Homo sapiens: one gene and its partners. The main gene of each other region encodes a partner of the protein of the gene in region 2 in a complex. Each region holds a gene or a part of one and is shown on either strand. Other genes may lie near its edges. The genes, in order: ARHGDIA, NGFR and TRADD.

Region 1 (3,811 bases), about 32 Mb from region 2:
AAGCATTTCACACCTGATTAGGAAACGCTGTGCTGATGACATGGCACTGACAGTGTGACTCAGTTACAGAAACTCTCAAATATCCCTCCAACATTCAGAAATTTTCAAAAGACACCAAGCTCGGTATTTTGCATAGTTCTGTCCCCAAAAATGCCCTCCTGTGTTCATGTCTGTGTCTGAACAAAGCAGCTGTGCGTGTGTGTGTGCGTGTGGTCTCCACTTCTCTTGATCAGCCTGGGTTGCCTGGCAGTATGGGCCAAACAGACAGGGCCCTGTCTGCATGGAGCTCAAGAGTGATTAAAAGAGGCTGGGTGGCCGGACATGGTGGCTCACACCTGTAATCCTAGCACTTTGGGAGGCTGAGGCAGGAGGATCGCTTGAGCTCAGGGGTTCAAGACCAGCCTGAGCAACATAGTGAGACCCTGTCTGTACAAAAAATAAAAAATTAGCTGGACATGGTGTTGCACACCTGTAGTCCCAGCTACTCGGGAGGCTGAGGTGGAAGGACTGCTTGAGCCCAGGAGATAGAGGCAGCAGTAAGCTGAGATTGTACCACTGCACTCCAGCCTGGGCAAAAGAGCAAGACCCTGTCTTGAAGAAAAAAAAAAAAAAAAAAAAAGATTGGGCACCCCGGTGGTTCATGCCTGTAATCCCAGCGCTTTGGGAGGCTGAGGTGGGTGGATCACCTGAGGTCAGGAATTCGAGACCAGCTTGGCCAACATGGTGAAACCCTGTCGCTACTAAAAATACAAAAATTAGCTGGGCATGTTGGCTCACACTTGTAATCCTAACTACTCGGGAGGCTGAGGCAGGAGAATCGCTTGAACCTGAAAGGTGGAGGTTGCAGTGAGCCGAGATTGTGCCATTGTACTCAAGCCTGGGCGACACTGAGACTACGTCTCAAAAAAATAATCAATCAATAAATAAAAGAGGCGTCCACGTTAACGAGTCCACAGTCCTAACAAGTGCTGCAGGCTGGACGCGGGGCAGCGTCCCACCCAGTGTCTGGTGCAGGGCATTTAGGGGCTTGGCCTCCAGGAGAGGCGAGCCCGGGGCTGGGTGCGAGCACTGCTGCTGGGCCAGGCCACTCACGTTATGCGGCCGTTCCTGATACTTCAACACGGCCCTTGTGGGCGAATGTGTGGAATCTCGGAACAAGCGGAGTGGGGAACAGGGCTCTGCGGTGAAGCCCAGGCTGAGGCAGCCCCTCATCTGCTCACGGTGCCAGGAGCTCCCTGCCTCCTGGTCCTGAGGAGCCGCGGGATTCCTCAGGGACACTAGGGCCTCTGCAGCGGCGCCTGCGCCAGGCAGCCACGCGCGCTGCGCACGAATTCTGTCTCAGCCTGGAGAAAAACACCTCCGCTGCGCCCTCGCCCAGCACCAGCTTTCCGCGGGGCGTGCAAGGGGCTCCTCCTAGCCCCACAGCCCTGTCTTTCCACGGGGGACACCAAGGCCCTGGAACGGCCCGCGCGCCAGCGCTCTCGCCCGTGTTTAACGAGAACTTAATCCCCGTGCCCGTTACCTCCCCGAAGTCCCGGGACTAGGTGACTAGGCCCCGAAGCAAGAGTCGCAGTCGGACCGACTGGGCCGGGGAGGGCAGCGCACTGCACCTGCGCGGGCTTCCACAGCCCACGCGGCCGCCGCAGGCCTCGAGTGGGCGCGGGTTGGGCAGCGGCGAGAGGCGGGACCGGACCTCGCCTCCCGGGTGCGGGCGCCCTGGGCTCGCGTAGGGAAGTGCCCTGGCTTACAGAGGTGACCACTGACGGGGCTTGGGGTGGAAGGTGACGACGCCAGAACCCACGCGGAACGCGCCCACGAGGCCCAGCCGCAAGATGGCGACGGCGTGCCCCCGGCCACCCGCGCGCCGCGCATGCGCCCTGGCCTTCCCCGCCCGAGTGAGCGGAAGTCTCGTGACCCCGGAAGTGACAGGCAGGGCGGGCGGGGCGGCCGACGACGTTCGTCATTTAGTGCGGGAGGGATCCTGAACCGCGCGGCCGAACCCTCCGGTGAGTGGCCGTGGCGGGGCGGAGGCGGCGGGGCGGAGGCGGCGGGTCGGGGCGGGGACCGGCGGCGCCGGCGGGGGCGGGGGGCGCTGAGGTGGGGGCTTCCGCCTTTGTTCGCGCCCCGCCCTGAGCCCGCGGCAGGGTCTCGGCGGGCGGGGGCGCGGTGACAGCGGGCCAGGGCGGTGCGGGCTAGGGCGGGGCCGGGGCGGGACCGGGCGGCGGCGGCCCCGGCCCCACGTGCGGGTCCCGGGCCGGAGGGGCGGCGGGGACCAGGGGAGTGCCGGCCCCTCCCGAGCGGTCCGGAGCTTCTTTCATGGCCGCCGAGGCGCGTGGGGCCCGGGCCAGACCTGAGGGCCCCTCCTTGGGGACGCGGGGGGCGCCGGGCCGGCAGCCGCGGTCCATCGCGTTCGGGGGCGACGCGGGGATTGGGGCGCGGCCTCCCCCAGCGCCCGGGCCACGCCCGGCACGGATTGCGGGCCCTGCGGAAGTGCGGGCCGCGCCCTAGGATCCCGGCGCCTACGGCTATCCTCGCGCGGCGCGGAGGCCCCAGCCCCTGGAGGAAGCAGGGCGGCCTGGACCCCGGCCTGGGTGTCCCGGGTGTGCTGCTCCCTGACCCACCTCCCACGCTGCCGGGAAGGATCTGAGCCTGACAGATCCCCTGCCGGGTCAGTGCTGCCCCGGGCACTCCGGGCCCACCATCTACAAGAGGGCCCGAGAGTACTGAGTGGCTGTGGTAGCTCCCAAGTTGTAGGTCACAGACCCTCACAATTGTGGAGAAACCGCAGATACTTAGGATCCCCGTGTCCAGGTGGCCCCGTGCGGTATTCTAGCTGCCCCTAACATCCGAGCTCCAGGGGCATCCTGTTTGAAAGATGACGCTGAGCCGACCACACACGTTTACATGTGACTACCACGGCCAGAGGAGCAACCCTACTGAGGGATACCGAGCCCCGTTACCCCGTAGGGCGAGGGCCTGGGCAGCTCAAGAGCGGCAAGACCCTAAGAGAGGGTTTAGTGTGGGCCCCGCCGGTTGATTCTGGGGCCTGCTAGCCCCGCCCCACACATACAGGGGGCTGCTGCCTCCTCCATCGTGGAGGGGGAGGTGTGTCCTCTCTCCCCATGATCGGCTGCAGTTCCCATTTTGTCTTAGATGTTATACCTGGGGTGGGGGCACCTCACACTGCCCCAGAGGATGCCCCTGAGCAGGAATCGCGGGGGTGGAGAGGAGCGAAGGTGGCCCCCTTGGAGCCCTTTTGGAGCTCCGGCTGCAGCCCACACTCCTGCTCAGAAGTGCGCCTCCGTTGGGGATCCAGGTCCAAGGCCTGTCACCGTCCCGCCCACAGGTGTCCCGACCCAGGCTAAGCTTGAGCATGGCTGAGCAGGAGCCCACAGCCGAGCAGCTGGCCCAGATTGCAGCGGAGAACGAGGAGGATGAGCACTCGGTCAACTACAAGCCCCCGGCCCAGAAGAGCATCCAGGAGATCCAGGAGCTGGACAAGGACGACGAGAGCCTGCGAAAGTACAAGGAGGCCCTGCTGGGCCGCGTGGCCGTTTCCGCAGGTGAGTCTGGGCTGCGGGAGCCGGGTGGCCGCCCGTTCACTCCAGCTGTCTTGCCGCTCCCCAGCCCCTACTTCCACTGGTGGGGGTGGGGCCCTCACCTGCTGTCACTCCCCAGACCCCAACGTCCCCAACGTCGTGGTGACTGGCCTGACCCTGGTGTGCAGCTCGGCCCCGGGCCCCCTGGAGCTGGACCTGACGGGTGAGTGCCCTGCGGCCGCGGGGGTCCGGGCGGCCCCTGGTGGGGATCT
Region 2 (3,600 bases):
AACCAGCGGCGTTAGTCAGCAGACGTGCCCGCGGTCGCTCCCAAATCCCCGGACGCAGCCACAGGTCCTGACAGCTCCAGGGAACTGGGGCTGAGCTTTCGGGCTGGGGCCCGCACCCGGACAGAATCTCTGCCCACCTCACCCGCAGGCTCTACCGCCGACGGACTCTGGGGACAGTGTCAACCCCCCCCGCCCTGCTGGGAAACGCAGCCGTGACCCCGAGCTGGGACAGCGGCTGCCCCCTGAAAAGGTGGGGGAGTACCGAGCTGGGAATCAGGTCGGGGAGTCTAGCCACGACTCTGGCCCAACTTGCTGTGAGATCTTGGCCAAGTCGTTTAAACTCTCAGAGCCTCAGTCTCCGTATCTGTAAAGCCGGAATTTGGGGCGCAGTGCTCTGATGAAAGATGCTGGCGGGGAGAGTGAAGACGCCTCCTCCGTTGCCAGACCTTCCAGGGCATTCGGTTCATGGCCATAAAGCAGGCCACATCTGACAATCTCGTCGGACCACCCGGAGGACCCGCCGACCTTTGCCGAGTCGGTGGCCCGGGATACCGCGCTACAGAATCCGAGGCGTCCGGGCGCCCCCGTCTCGTTAGGTGCCCAGCGGCTTGCACCGAGAGCCAGGAGAGGCTCAGACCGGATCCCGACCCTTCGAGGCGCGGGAGCCCACGGAGCGCGGTGGGCGCGGCGCTCGGGTCGCGCAGCTAGGTGGGGAGCGGCGCGCAGCCCCAGACTCGCAGGCAGGCAGCGGCGGACTGCACTTGCCTCGCCCCGCAGCGCCCCCTGCCTGCCGCCTCCCGCCTGCGTAGCCAGAGCTGCGCGCGGCCAGGAAGGGTCCCCGCCTAGTGCGCCCCGGCGCTCTGCACCCCGAGACGTAGCCACCGCCAGCCCGGGTAGGGGCACACCCGCTCCGTCCCTCGCGATCCGCTGCGCTGCTTCAAGCCGTGAGAACACGCGCGTCGGAGGAGCCCGCCGGCCGTGGGGGAACCCCGGGAGCGGGTTCGCCCCGGCGAAGTGGGCACTCCCCTCCCAGCCTTAGATCCGCAGCCCCAATTCCGGGACTGGGAGAGGCCGCGAGCAGGAGCGCGGGGACAGGCGCTGGAAATGTCCAAGCCTCTGCTCTCTCTTCTCGTCTCACTGTCCCTCAGCGGGCAGGCGGGACCCCGACCACTTCAGGGTCCGCGCCCCGCTCTGTCTCCTTTCCTTCTGCTTCCATCTCTCTGCCGCCCTCGCCGTCGCCCCTCTTCTGCCCTCCCTAACCCACTTCTCAACCTCTCTCCCGCTCCCCAACCTCTCCCTCCGACGCCCCTCCCCCCCATTGTCTGGCCGGTCCCCATTGTCCTTGCCGGGTCCCCTCTGCCTCCAGTCCCTCCGACCTCCTCCATTGTTCCATCCCGTCGTCCCGGGCTCCCCGCCCCAGCCCAGCTCGCCCCTCTCATCTCTAGTCCCCGTCCAGTTCCCCCTCCTTCTCTCGCCTTGGTTCTGTCCCACGACTCTCCAGAGACCGAGATGCTGAGGGGAAAGTCCCTTCGGGATCCCGGCATTCGAGTGTCCTCTTCCGAAGAACCTGGGCATCGGAGAGCCCCATGCCCCCTCTTGAAAGACCCCTCCCAGCTCCCCCACCGCCCCCTGCGGTACCTGAGGACCGGCATCCGTGCTCCGGTCTTGCCCTCATCTCCACCCTGGAGAGTCGCCTCTGCGCTCCGGGAACCCTAGACCCTCCTTCGTGGTCCCGGCATCAGAGGTCCTTTCCCACCACCCACCCTCAGTATCTGGGACCCCAATGCTCTGTTCTGTTTCCTTGGTGGCGGCGCCCGGCTCTTCTCGGAGTTCTGATCCCGGGAAAGGGAGCGGGCCCCCTCCGGCTAACACTCACCCCCAGAAGCAGCAACAGCAGCAGGCGCGGCCCGTCCATGGCGCGGCCGGTGGCACCTGCCCCCATCGCCCGCCTCCCGCGGCAGCGCTCGACTTCCAGCTCGGTCCGCTTTGCGGACTGATGGGGCTGCGCTGCGCTGCGCTCCAGCGCCCCCCCTGCCCGCCGGAGCTGGCCGCGGCTCGGCTCGCTCTGGCTGCGGGCGGGAGAGGCTGGGTGAAGCCAGTGCTGCGGCCCCGCCTCCGCCCCGCCCAGCCCGCCCACCCCCGGAACCGCGCCCGCCCGCCCTGCCGCCTCGGGGTGGGAAGCAGAGGCAAAGGGAGGGCGTGCGGTTCCCCGCACCCCGCTGCGCTTCTCCCTGCCTTGTCCCTTAGAGCCTCTCACCCATCCCGCCCTGGTACCCAGTTCCCGGCCCGCGCTACTGCGCGTCCGTCCCGGATGCTGTGGGCCCGGGGACCAGGGCGTCCCCACTGCGGTTCCTGTTCCTCTCCGGCTGCGGCCCGCCACAGGGTTCACTCTCTTACCCATCTTCCTCCGCCTCTGGCTTCACCTTCTCCCTGGAGCCTTGCTCCCTAACTGCCCCCTATCAGTAAGAATGCCCGCTTGCCCTCCCTGCCCTTCATCTCAGTCCATCACCCCACCTCCACCCCATCCCCACCCCTCCCCTTCCCAGTGCAGGAGATCCCTGGGCAGAGGCCTAGGGGGAGGGGAGGGGCGCAGGCGCCCTTACCTCGGCCATCGACATTCAAGGTGGAGTCCATTCCGACATCATTTGATTCTCAAATGAGGGGTTTGAAGGGGTCACAGGTGTGCACACAGTGCACAGGAATACACACTCTCAAGCTCACTTGTATGTGTGATCGTGCACTTACGTGTGCCCACACCGTTCTCATGCACTCCTGCCGACCTGACTGTCCCACACATGCACCTCTCCAGGCATGCACACGGGCACATATGTGATCCGGACATTCAAACGCGCATATGTACACATTCACACATGCATGTATACAGTCGTGTCTGCATAAGCCCTCACATGTATACAGTCACACAAACACACACATTCATGAGTGCACACACACACTGACACCCATCAACAAACAAACAGATGCATCTTCAACAATATAGACTTCACCAGACTGTGAGTGTCTCCATGGGCTTATGAGCTCTGCAGGCAGGGATTATGGTTTCTTCTCTGAATTCCTGGTATACAGTAGGGTTCAAGAAAGTTTTGTAGAAGGGAATAAATAGAAAAGTGGTGAAATGGACTCATATCTGTGTACCCATCCATGTGCTAGGACCAAATTCATCTTGCCCTAGAAACCTTGCCAAGTCCAAATAATATGCCTCCCAACCCCAAAAGCATGCCACCCACCCCCATGCTTACCCCTTTCCTGTTCCCTCCATTTCTTCGTTCCCAGACATCAAGACCCTGGAGCACAGAGTTGATGGGGGTGTCTGCAAAGTCTATCCCAACACCCAAATCTTAACCATGTTTGGATTTCAGTTTCCTCCTGGAAAAAAAAAAAATCTCACTACCCTCCCCAGTTATGGAAACAAAAGGGAGATCAAGAGCGCTTGTGGGCCAGGCACATGCCTGTAATCCCAGCACTTTGGGAGGCCGAAGCGGGTGGATCACCTGAGGTCGAGAGTTCGAGACCAGCCTGGCCAACATAGTGAAACCTCATCTCTACTAAAAATACAAAAATTAGCTTCGCGTGGTGGCTCAC
Region 3 (3,436 bases), on a different chromosome or scaffold from region 2:
AGCCTGACCAACATGGAGAAACCCCATCTCTACTAAAAATACAAAATTAGCTGGGCATGGTGGTGGGCGCCTGTAATCCCAGCTACTTGGGAGGCTGAAACAGGAGAATTGCTTGAACCCAGGAGGTGGAGGTTGCAGTGAGCCAAAAACGTGCCATTACACTACAGCCTGGGAAATAAGAGTGAAGCTCCATCTGAAAAAAAATTAAAATTAAAAAAAAAAAAAAAACAACCACCTCCCAGTCTTAACTCCCGAAACTCTTCAAAGGCTTCCTACTGGCCTCATTGAAAAACCCACAAGCCTTCCTCAAGCCCTTGCCTGAGACTGTGCCCCGAACACTGCCCTTCTCTCGATAGCCCACCCCTATGCCTACTCACACTCATCTCCTCCAGGAAGCCTACCCCCTGTCCCCTGCCCAGGTTAGGCCCCTTCCTCCATCCTCCACAACTTCTCTTTTTTTTTCTTTCTTTTTTTTTTTTTTTTTTTGAGACAGGGTCTCACTCTGTCACCCAGGCTGGAGTGCAGTAGCTCAGTGACATCTCACTGCAGCCTCAACCTTCCATGCTCCAGGGATCCTCCCACCTCAGCCTCCTAAGTGGCTGGGACTACCCAGGCTGGTCTCAAACTCCTGAGCTCAAGCAATCCTCCTATCTCTGTCTCCCAAATTGTTGGGATTACAGGTGTAAGCCACTACTACTTGTATTTCTCACATCAAAATCCGTGTTATACTTTATTATCATTGCTTAACATTCGGGGTCCCACGCTGAGTGTGAGCTGGGGGCAGGCAAGATTGATTCCTGTTTTACTTCACTGCAGTATCTGCAGCACCCAGGATGAAGTCCAGGACACCAAAGATCAAGGTGCTTCATGAGTGAAACTGTAAGGGCTGGCTGTAAGCCCCGCTTCTGGGATGGGAGAAGGTGAGGCTGATCTCCAAAGCAGGTCCCCCCCACCCCACACTCTATCAAAGTACCTGAGGCAGAATCCCCAATGATGCACCCCCAGTGGTCTGGCTCCTGGGGAAGGCAATCAACTCTGCCCCAGCAGGTCCAGCAGATAGGCCAAGTGGAGTTTCAGGGTCCCGTGGATGGACAGGGGTTCAGCAATAGCCGCAGAAGGAACCCTAAGGCCATCCAGGTTCTCCAAAAGCTGGCTGCACCCCTGGTCTAGGCCAGGCCGCCATTGGGATCGGTCAGGCCCAGCAAGTCCTCTGCCAGGCTGGTGAGCTCGTTCTCCTCGAGTGCCTCCACCAGGCGCTGCAGCGTGGCGCGGCGGCCCTCGGCCTGCACGAAGCGCCGCAGCAGCTGGAAGGCCTGCTCGTACAGTCCCTCGCGCTCGTACTCGTAGGCCAGCGAGTCCAGCGCCGGGTCCCGCAGCGCCCGGCAGCCTCGCTGCAGTGAGCGCCCCACCTTGCGCCATTTGAGACCCACAGAGCGCGCGAACGTCTGTTGGTCCTTCAGGCTCAGCGGCCGATTCACTGCAGAGGGAGTGGGGAAACGGGGTGAGGGCGGGGACCCCCAGCGCCGGTCCCACCCATCCCCACCCGGCAACGACCCCTGCCCCTCCCCAGACTCCAACCTCCTGGTGACCCCGCCTCTCCACCTGCGCCTCACCTACAGGCTGACCCTGGAACAGAAAAGTCTGGGCAGGTGGCGGCGGCGGCGGCGGCTTCACCTCCGACAGAGAGGGCACCGGGGGCTGCAAGGGGGCCGAAGCGACCTCCCCGTCGCCACCCCGGGCCCCCGAGCCGCACTTCAGATTTCGCAGCGCATCCTCCAGCTCAGCCAGTTCTTCATCCCGGAGCCGGTCGGGCTAGGGGAATGGAACGTGCCGTCACGGGGGACTTAACCGCGGATCCCCGCCCTACCCCATCCTGACCCTAGCCCGGCCGCACCTGCTGGGCTAGGATGCAACTCAAACAGCGCTCCTCGTCCGCCAGCAAAGCGTCCAGCCGCTCGGCGCCGGCGCGCAGCTCCAGTTGCAGCGGCACCGAGTGCTGGGCGAGCGCGGCCGCCAGGCTCCTCTGCAGCGCGGCGCGCAGCGCCCCCTCGCGGTAGGCGCGGAGGAAGCGGCCACAGGGCTGCCGCCCGCAGAATCGCAGCTGCACGATCAGCTGCGGGTCGCTGCGGTGGATCTTCAGCATCTGCAGCACGTCCGGGCTCCCGCCGCTCTCTGCGGAGGCGGGCGGTCAGGCGCCGGGCGGTCCCCAAGCTCGGCCGTTCTCCAAACGGCCGGAGGAGGGGCGAAGCCCGTGGTGAAGCCCCGCGTCCCATCCCCTGACCTAGGGTGCAGTTACCCCAGAGTACCCAGCTGGGAAGCAAAATTGGGATACAAACAGCAATAACCCAGAAAGAAGACCAGGATCTGTCACAGGGAGCACCCTAAGACAGAGTGGGTGCCACCTAACCCCCGCTCTCACGCCCCAAATGAGGGTTGGCAAAAGAGAGGGACTTCGAAGCACAGAAAAGGGGGCGTGTGCCCTGGGCAAACAAGCCGTCTGGGTAGGCGGCCAGCAGGGCAGAGGAGGGCGAGAGGTCTCAGGTCTTCGGCCTCCACCAAGCGCGACTCCCACTGCTCGGGAAGAAGAGGGGCTCTCGCCGCTCTGAGGCCACGAACAGATCCCCCAACCCGCTTCAGCCTCCTGTGGCCTCTGCCCTGAGATGGGAAAGGGGGGCCTGGAAGGGTAGGTACTGGGGAGGGGTCTTGAGCAAGGAGTGCTGCAGTAAGAGAGGAAAAGAGGAGAGAGACATCCACAATTAGTAGAAAGGAGTGAGCCGGCTGGTGGAGGGGGGCGGGGATGGAGCAAAGGACGTTAGTGCACAAATTGGTAAATCATACACAGACTCGAGAACACACGCCTATCCTCAAGGTCATGCCACAAGCAAAGAAGAGAGTCTGCACAGCCAGGGGTCCTCCGTCTTGCTCCTCCCACCCCAAATCTTCTTCTTAAAGGTGGCTAAACCCAGGCCCACCCACAAAATGCTCCAGGCCACCCCTTCCTCTCCACATGCCCGCCCATCCACGCACCTGCCAAGGCAGCCTGCAGAGCCCTGTACACTGCCACCTTCTGCTGGGGGTGCGCGTAGGCATCCGACAGGACCACCTTGTCCAGCGAGGACTCCACAAACAGGTATGCGCTGCCCACCCACTCTTCGTGCCCATTTTGCCCAGCTGCCATCTCACCTCCTGGAGATGCAGACAGTCAGGTATCCAGTTCATCCCCCCTCCCTCCACCCTGGAGACAACTACCCAGCCCCACGTGGTTCAGCTGTCCCCACCACAGTAGCCTCAAGTCCCACATGGTTCAGTTGTCCCCACCACTGGTTGGCATACTTGGGACAGGAGTTCACCATCTCACAGGAAGCCCCTTGAGCTCCTGGCTCTGTACAGAGTCCCACCCGCCCCAGGCTTGCAGTGAGGACTGTCCCTCCACTGC

The links.
Region 1: the proteins of NGFR (region 2) and ARHGDIA are in contact, whole or in part, in an NMR structure (PDB 8X8T), measured with the Homo sapiens proteins. Residues at the interface, in NP_002498.1 of Homo sapiens: Arg274, Trp275, Ser277, Cys278, Lys279, Gln280, Lys282, Gln283, Gly284, Ala285, Ser287, Arg288, Pro289, Val290, Asn291, Gln292, Thr293, Pro294, Pro295, Pro296, Glu299, Lys300, Leu301, Ile307, Ser308, Val309, Gln312, Ser313, Asp316, Gln317; in NP_001172006.1 of Homo sapiens: Ala8, Glu9, Leu11, Ala12, Gln13, Ile14, Ala15, Ala16, Glu17, Asn18, Glu19, Glu20, Asp21, Glu22, Val25, Pro30, Ala31, Gln32, Lys33, Ile35, Gln36, Glu37, Ile38, Gln39, Glu40, Leu41, Asp42, Lys43, Asp44, Asp45.
Region 3: the proteins of NGFR (region 2) and TRADD are in contact, whole or in part, in an NMR structure (PDB 7CSQ), measured with the Homo sapiens proteins. Residues at the interface, in NP_002498.1 of Homo sapiens: Glu345, Glu346, Glu348, Lys349, Leu350, Asn352, Gly353, Ser354, Ala355, Glu379, Ala380, Cys381, Arg384, Glu420; in NP_001310481.1 of Homo sapiens: Thr201, Phe202, Asn211, Ala275, Glu276, Arg278, Arg279, Thr281, Gln283, Arg284, Glu287.

What each region holds. Positions count from the first base shown.
Region 1 is NC_000017.11:81,869,493-81,873,303, reverse strand, and holds the start of ARHGDIA (rho GDP-dissociation inhibitor 1), read left to right. Parts: upstream 1-1,966; 5' UTR 1,967-2,006; intron 2,007-2,306; exon of another isoform or gene 2,307-2,668; intron 2,669-3,346; 5' UTR 3,347-3,373; coding exon 3,374-3,563; intron 3,564-3,678; coding exon 3,679-3,762; coding exon of another isoform or gene 3,763-3,811. UniProt on the Homo sapiens protein: Controls Rho proteins homeostasis. Regulates the GDP/GTP exchange reaction of the Rho proteins by inhibiting the dissociation of GDP from them, and the subsequent binding of GTP to them.
Region 2 is NC_000017.11:49,493,760-49,497,359, reverse strand, and holds the start of NGFR (tumor necrosis factor receptor superfamily member 16 precursor), read right to left. Parts: upstream 2,068-3,600; 5' UTR 1,943-2,067; coding exon 1,877-1,942; intron 1-1,876. UniProt on the Homo sapiens protein: Low affinity receptor which can bind to NGF, BDNF, NTF3, and NTF4. Forms a heterodimeric receptor with SORCS2 that binds the precursor forms of NGF, BDNF and NTF3 with high affinity, and has much lower affinity for mature NGF and BDNF.
Region 3 is NC_000016.10:67,153,483-67,156,918, forward strand, and holds the end of TRADD (tumor necrosis factor receptor type 1-associated DEATH domain protein), read right to left. Parts: intron 3,187-3,436; 5' UTR 3,179-3,186; coding exon 3,028-3,178; intron 2,173-3,027; coding exon 1,895-2,172; intron 1,813-1,894; coding exon 1,614-1,812; intron 1,478-1,613; coding exon 1,167-1,477; 3' UTR 703-1,166; downstream 1-702. UniProt on the Homo sapiens protein: Adapter molecule for TNFRSF1A/TNFR1 that specifically associates with the cytoplasmic domain of activated TNFRSF1A/TNFR1 mediating its interaction with FADD.